Homo sapiens: one gene and its partner. The protein of the gene in region 1 interacts with the protein of each later gene in a biochemical or structural test. Each region holds a gene or a part of one and is shown in the gene's direction. Other genes may lie near its edges.

Region 1 (3,752 bases):
AAAATAGAGGGATGAAGACTGAGCTTTGGGAAATATGCACATCTTGGGTAAAATGAAGAAAGAAAGTGAAATGTGAAAAGAAAACCTCGGTAGCATGAGGTAAGAGAAGAAAGGAAGGAGTGAGTTTGAAGAAGGTCCAGGTAAGGGTCACTCATGTCTGAAGTCCAGGAGGATGTGGCTGAGAAGAAGCCCTTGAATGTGATGAGAAGGTCTTGGATGACCCACGGTGAAGCAGGGAGGTATGGGAGTGAAAACCAATTGCAGCAGGGCCAGGAGGGGTGAGAGGAGTCTGGGGCACTTGGGGTCATTGGACAGGGCAGGGGCAGGGGCAGCAGAGGACTCTGAGCACTGTAGAGGGAGCTCCAGGAAGGGAAGCGGGAGTGAGCCAAGGCGCTATACACTGCAGAATTCTCACCTTCCTAGAGCAGCCCTCTGATATTTATGTCTGTTTTCAGTGGTGGTTTATATTTTAGATAGTGAATACATTTGTGTGATTCTAAACTTTAAAGAGGAAAAAAAGAAAAAAAAATATTTTCTATGAGAAGCCTTCTTCCCTCCTATCCCTGTTTCCCAGCCACTCTGTTTTTCTTGCTCCCAGCAAGAGCATGTCGCCAGTTTCAGTGTTACAGGTTTCTGGGCTGTCCTTTCAAAGAGATTCTAAACATAGACAGTATCTTTTTCCTTTGGCTACCACCCCTCCTGTTACTACACAGACTGTAGCACACAGTGCACACTAGGCTGTCGTTTGCTTCTTTCACCCGATCATCTATCTTGGAGACCAGTCCCTTTCAATATATAAAGGGCTTCCTCGTTCTTTTATTTTTATATTGCCATGTAATACTCTATATCACGAGTCTATCATAACTTTCATAGCCAGCCTGTTATTAATGACATATAGATTATTTCCATCTTTTGCTTGTTATAAGCAAGGCTGCAGTAAGCCTAAGTCACTTGACTTGTGTAGCTCTATAGGACACATTATCTTACAGTTGGATTTACCAGAACAAAGGGCATTTGCATTTTAATTTGTAATAAATATTTCCAAGTTGCTCTCCATAAAGCAGGTTCTTCTCTCCCTCCTGCAACATATGAACATACCTGTTTCCCCAGGCCAACCAATGTGTTATCAAACTTTTTTTTAATTCTTGCAAATAGTGGATGAAAACGACTAGTTTGTTCTGTCCAACTGCCTGGACTCTCCTTCCACCTTTTCAGCACCTGCCCTCATGCCTCACCTTGAAGTTTTTCTACAGTGATTTTACATTTTCTTCTACCCTCTTTATCTCAAAAAAAATTTTTTTTCTAAGTTGGCAGAGCACATTCCTAACTATGAACTCCATTTTTGCATCTGGAGTGCCAAACACCAGCTTCTCTGAGTCCAAGGGTGGGGGCGCAAGCTCACTCTGTGACTGTGATTTGGACCTAAGTGAGTTTTTTAGTCACTTTGCTGTGCTTATGTGTCCTTTTCTGCTGTCTCAAAACTGCTCCTGTTCTTTGTTCCTTAAATACCACCTCTATAGGGCTATTTGTAGTGGCATTTTCCCAAAGGTTCAGGATAGCAGAGCACAGCAGACAACTGAAAATGGAACTGTGGATGTCCTGGTTTCTGGAAGTCCATTGCTCCCTCCTCCACTGGGCGTTTCTCACTGGCTTCCTTCTCTGCAGATTTTAGCCTTTTGCTAACCTGCGTGCACTTTCCCCTTTCCTCTGCCTCCTACTGGTTCCTAGCCCCAAAGTTTTAGCTGCTACTACAGAGTGGTCTAGCCATCTCTGATTTGCAGTTTCCCTTCAGAACGCACCTTCAAGATCCCTCATGTAAAATGAAGAGGCTCACGTTAAAAGGCCTAACAAGTAATTTTTCTCAAAAATAAAGTTCTTCCCCTAAGAGCAGCTTGACTATTAAGATACCAGTGTCTTCACTCATATCTTTTTTTTTTTTTTTTTTTTTTTGAGATGGAGTGTTGCTCTGTCGCCCAGGCTGAAGTGCAGTGGTGCAATCTTGGCTCACCGCAACCCCTGCCTCCCCGGTTCAAGCGATTCTCCTGCCTCAGGCTACCAAGTAGCTGGGGTTACAGGCACCCGCCACCACCATACCTGGCTAATTTTTTGTATTTTTAGTAGAGGCAGGGTTTCACTATGTTGGTCGGGCAAGTCTGGAAACTCCTGACCTCAAGTGATCCGCCCACCTCAGCCTCCCAGAGTGCTGGGTTTACAGACATGAGCTACTGCACTGGGCCTTTCACCCATATCTTGTCCCTGTGTGTCAGTTTTGCAAGGCAGTAATATCGAAACCAAATCCTAAAGCAGTTTATAATTTAGCCTGACACACTGTGCAAGCCAGGTTTTGTATGCAAGTTTGTGTGTATCATTAACTAATGAAATCTTAAAAAGCAGTTTGGCTTATTTATAGATAATGGAGCTGTTTCTTAACCTTGTGCCTTTTTTTTAAGCTGGTAGAAGCATATCCTGGTTATTATCTGGAATGTAGTAATACGGTAACCTTAAGAATGCCATAAATATTTAACCTAATAAGGGGATTGCTAGTCTTCTTTTCTTGATTGAAAGGGAAACAAATATTAATATTTGATCATTAATATGTGTTTTGGCTGTACAGATTTCTCCAGAGGCTGTCTTACTGCTTTTTGGTAATTAGAAATTACCAAAAAAAAAAAAAAAGAAAAGAAAACAAGACTAGTAACCCAAAAAGGACTTACTTGGTGAAATTGTCAATTGTCAGTTGGGCACTGTGGCCACTCCTTCCTATACTCTTCCCTGACTTCCAGAAGAGAAGCCAGGAACTAGGTCTCCCAGAGTCCCCTTTTATATGTGAAGTCCACTCCCAGGACTCCCAGGAAACTTGCAAGGCTGAAGAAAGAGAGGCAGTTAGTCATAGGAGACAGTTCAGTCAGATGTGTGAGCCAAGGCCAGTGTATGGTTTAGCAGCAGTGGACAGTCAGGCTCTGTGAATCACTCTTCCCAAGCTGCAGGCTGACAGAGGCTGAGATCCTTTCCAGACGTCTTGGCTTCTGGGCAAGTTCTGGAGAATCTCTCGCTTCAATATTGAATTGTATAACAACAGTACAAGGTCTAGGAGAAAAGAAATGGAAGTGTACTGTTGTCAGGTTCTTTATAGTATATGTGGAATAGTGCATAATATTACTTTAAAGTAGACTGTGGTAAGTAAAATATATAATATAAAATCCTTAACTTCTGAAAAAGAGTTATAGCTAATAGCCAACAAATGGGATAAAATGGAATCATAATAAATATTCTAATTAATCCAAAATAAGGCAGGAAAAGAGGGGAAAAAGAACAGATTGAACAAATAGCAGGATTTCTATAGAATTTGAATGGAAACCCAACCATATCAATAATCACAATGTAAATTGTCTAAACGTTTCAACTAAAAGGCAGAGATTGTTAGACTGAGTAAAAAAAAGCAAGACCTAACTATATGCTGCCTATAAGAAACTAACTATAGCTATGAAAACACATATAGATTAAATGTGAAAGGTTGGGGAAAAAATGTATTATGCAACACTGATCAACAGAAATTGGGAATGGATTGTTAATATCAGACAAAATAAATTATAGGGCAAAAAATATTACCAGGAATAAAAATGGTCATTTTAGAAAGATAAAGGGGTCAATTAAAAAAAAGGACATAACCATCCTAAACTTGTATGTATCTAATAACAGAGTTTTGAAATATGTGGGTCAAAACTGATAGAACTGAAAGGAGAAATACACAG
Region 2 (3,752 bases), on another chromosome or scaffold:
GGGCGGGGTCGGGGCGTGGCAGCCAGCCCATTGTCCAAGCAGACCTTGGTGACCCTGGGTTCTTCAAGAGGGGCCGTGGTGCCGTCCTAGCTCTGGGCTGCAGCGTGAGACTCAGGCGGCAGTCTTGGATAGGACCCATCTTCCTGAGCCCCCACAAGCCCCCGGCACACTCTGCTCATTGGGGCATGAGGCTCAGGCAGCAGGCTCAGGTAGGACGTGGTACGCTCTGCTCAGTGGGTCGGAGGTAAGGTTCATTCATACCCCAGTCTTGAACCAGCTCTTAAGGACTGTGGAGGTGAAAGCCAGGTCTGACCTAGTAGCATTGGGCACGCTGAGGCTCCGAACATCTGGAGCCTCTCCCTGGCATCCCCCCTGGGAAGCCATGCCCAGCCTGTGATGAGGGCGGCACCTTCCCTCCGCCATCCCCGAGTGCTTGGACTTGAAGCATCCAGGCCTTTGGGGGCCTTATTGACTTTTGCTTATTGAAGGCTGCCTCTGGCATTTCCGTGTGGCCCCCTGCATCCCACTGAACCACGGGGGTGAGGCCTGGACTGAACATTCAACTCCCTGGGCCCTGCTGCAGCGTGCAGTGGGTGTGTCTGGGGAGGGTGGCTTGTCTGCATCTTGCTGTGGCATGGGAGGAAAGGCGCCTGTGGCAGTGACGTGCCCTCTCCTCTGTTACGGGATAAAGACAGAGTCTGGATCAGGGTGTCACCCCAGGATCACCAGCCACAGGGATGGGGGACCACGCAGGCTGGTGCATGCGTTGGCACAGTCCTTCCAGAGGTCCTTCAGCTGCATCTGCCAAAAAGCCTGTAATGCCCTTTGACCTCATAGGTCCACTTTAGCGTAAGCAAATGAGACCGGCCCCAGAAATGTGGTCAGCTAGAGGCGGAGGGAGGCCAGAGCCTGCCACCCAGCTGACCACCAGTACTGGTGGCTCCATTATGACATATCTGCAGGCGGAACCCAGAGGCCCTTAGAATGGCCCCCTGATGCTTGGTTACTGACAGGATGCAGCTTTGGGACAGGGGAGATGACCAAGCATTGTGCAAAATATCCCGTTGTATAAAGCACTTGGTGGAAAGGTCATGGCCTGCAGTACCGAGTGGCCACCTCCGTCTGCAGAATCATAGGTAATGTTTATGTTCTTTATCTAATTCAGTAAAATAGCATAACAATTAGATTTTTATATACTATATTACAGTATACCCATTGTAATGTGTAAATATGTAAATCATAAATAGTCTTGAAGTGGCCAGGTGCAGAGGCTCACACCTGTAATCCCAACACTTTGGGAGGCCAAGGTGGGAAGATCACTTGAGGCCAGGAGTTCAAGACCAGCCTGAGCAATATGGTGAGACCCCATCTCTACAAAAAAAATACAAAAATTAGCCAGGCATGGTGGTGCGCACCTGTAGTGCCCGCTGCTCTGGAAGCTGAGGCGGGAGGATTGCTCGAGCTCAGGAGGTTGAAGCTGCAGTGAGCCGTGATCGCGCCACTGCTCTCCAGCCTGGATGATGACAGACTGTGACCCTGTCTGTAAAAAAAAGTTCTTAATTTTAAAAAGTCACAAAGTGTTTACAGAAGCTACATTGTAACACCTGCTCTAGCACTTGGTCATGCTGCCATCTCTGTGTCTCTCCGGCAGGATTCTGTCATGCCTTCCCAAGAGCCTCCAGTAGACGACAAGAACGAGGACGCCGACCTTCCTTCCGAGGAGACAGATGGAAGTAGGCGCTGCTTTCTTCCGGCCGGGTAGAGCCTGGGCATCACCTCACCCTGCTCACCTCTGCCTTCTAGCCACGAGTCCTTTCTCAGTCCCATCTGCTCTGCAGGGGTCATTGTCTTCAAGCCTGGCCACCCTTCCCTGGGGCTGGGGATGAGGCTCTCCAGGGCCTCCTCTCAATCCCCGGCAGAGATGAGCAGGGTGAGCTGGCCCTCCCTGGAGGCTGCTGGGCAGGGATGCCTCCGTGAAGTGCTGTTGTGGTTGCCCAGGGGTGCAGAGCCTCTTCCTCTAACCAGCTCCGGGAGTTCTCGAAGGCACTTAGTGCAGCAGCCACCATGGCCGGGCACCTCCCACAATCTGGCTGCTGCACAGAGCTGAGCCCTATCTGGGGAAAGCCTGGCGAGGTGGCTGCTGCACACACAGCGTGGCAGTGGCATGGTCCTTGGATTTTTGTGAGGTTTTGTTTGTTGTGGGGAAGGACTTGTTTTATTGCTAAGAAGCATTCAGAGAGAGATCTCAAACACCAGTTGGACTTACAGCCCAGGTTTGAGCCTCCACACCTGCACCTCTGCACGGGGGTGTGAGAGCCTCACTTTCACTTGATGCATGTGAGTTCTGTCTCATTGGGAGACCACAGAACATAAAGCACTTATGAGACCACAGAACATAAAGCACTTAGTTCACACAGTGCCTCACGCAAAAGAGATGCCTCACAAACAACTGCCTGCCCACCTGCTCCTCCACCCACCTATCCTCTATACAGATATTCATCCGTACATCATCCATTCACCCACCTAGCCAACCAACCAGCCCTCATCCAGCCAACCAGCCATCCTCCACCCGCCCATTCTCCATCCATCCACCACCTATCCATCTATCCACGATCCATCCATCTCGTCATCCAGCCAGCCAGCCAGCCATCCTCCACCCACCCATCCTCCAGCTATCTTCCATTCGTTCATCTGTTGTCCACTGACCTCTCCATCTATCCATGTATCTATTGTCCACTGACCTCTCCATCTATCCATCTATTGTCCACTGACCTCTCCGTCTATCCGTCTATTGTCCACTGACCTCTCCATCCAACCGTCTATTGTCCACTGACCTCTCCATCTATCCATCCATCTTTTGTCCACTGACGTCTCCATCTATCCATCTGTCTGTTGTCCACTGACCTCTCCACCCATCTATCTGTTGTCCACTGACCTCTCCATCTTTCCATCTGTTGTCCACTGACCTCTCCATCTATCCATCTATTGTCCACTGACCTCTCTATCTATCCATCTATTGTTCACTGACCTCTCCTTCCATCTATCTGTTGTCCACTGACCTCTCCATCTATCCATCTATCTTGTCCACTGACGTCTCCATCTATCCACACATCTGTTGTCCACTGACGTCTCCATCTGTTCATCTATCTGTTGTCCACTGACCTCTCCACCCATCTGTCTGTTGTCCACTGACCTCTCCATCTTTCCGTCTATTGTCCACTGACCTTTCCATCTATCCAGCTATTGTCCACTGACCTCTCCATCTATCCATCCATCTATTGTCCACTGACGTCTCCATCTGTCCATCTATCTGTTGTCCACTGACCTGTCCACCCATCTGTCTGTTGTCCACTGACCTCTCCATCTATCCATCCACTGTCCACTGACCTCTCCATCTATCCATCCATTGTCCACTGACCTCTCCATCTATCCATCCATCTATTGTCCACTGACGTCTCCATCTGTCCATCTATCTGTTGTCCACTGACCTGTCCACCCATCTGTCTGTAGTCCACTGACCTCTCCATCTTTCCGTCTGTTGTCCACTGACCTCTCCGTCTATCCATCTATCTATTGTCCACTGACCTCTCCATCTATCCATCTATTGTCCACTGACCTCTCCATCTATCCATCCATCTATTGTCCACTGACCTCTCCATCTATCCATCCACTGTCCACTGACCTCTCCATCTATCCATCCATCTATTGTCTACTGACCTCTCCATCTATCCATCCATCTATTGTCCACTGAC

What was found. Proteins that work in one complex are often made in the same cells at the same time.
Region 2: the proteins of BLVRA (region 1) and PRKCZ form a complex in vitro, tested with the Homo sapiens proteins (one study listed by BioGRID).

What each region holds. Positions count from the first base shown.
Region 1 is NC_000007.14:43,782,672-43,786,423, forward strand, and holds part of BLVRA (biliverdin reductase A), read left to right. Parts: intron 1-3,752. UniProt on the Homo sapiens protein: Reduces the gamma-methene bridge of the open tetrapyrrole, biliverdin IXalpha, to bilirubin with the concomitant oxidation of a NADH or NADPH cofactor. Does not reduce bilirubin IXbeta.
Region 2 is NC_000001.11:2,144,376-2,148,127, forward strand, and holds part of PRKCZ (protein kinase C zeta type), read left to right. Parts: intron 1-1,011; exon of another isoform or gene 1,012-1,136; intron 1,137-1,651; coding exon 1,652-1,733; exon of another isoform or gene 1,734-1,930; intron 1,931-3,752. UniProt on the Homo sapiens protein: Calcium- and diacylglycerol-independent serine/threonine-protein kinase that functions in phosphatidylinositol 3-kinase (PI3K) pathway and mitogen-activated protein (MAP) kinase cascade, and is involved in NF-kappa-B activation, mitogenic signaling, cell proliferation, cell polarity, inflammatory response and maintenance of long-term potentiation (LTP).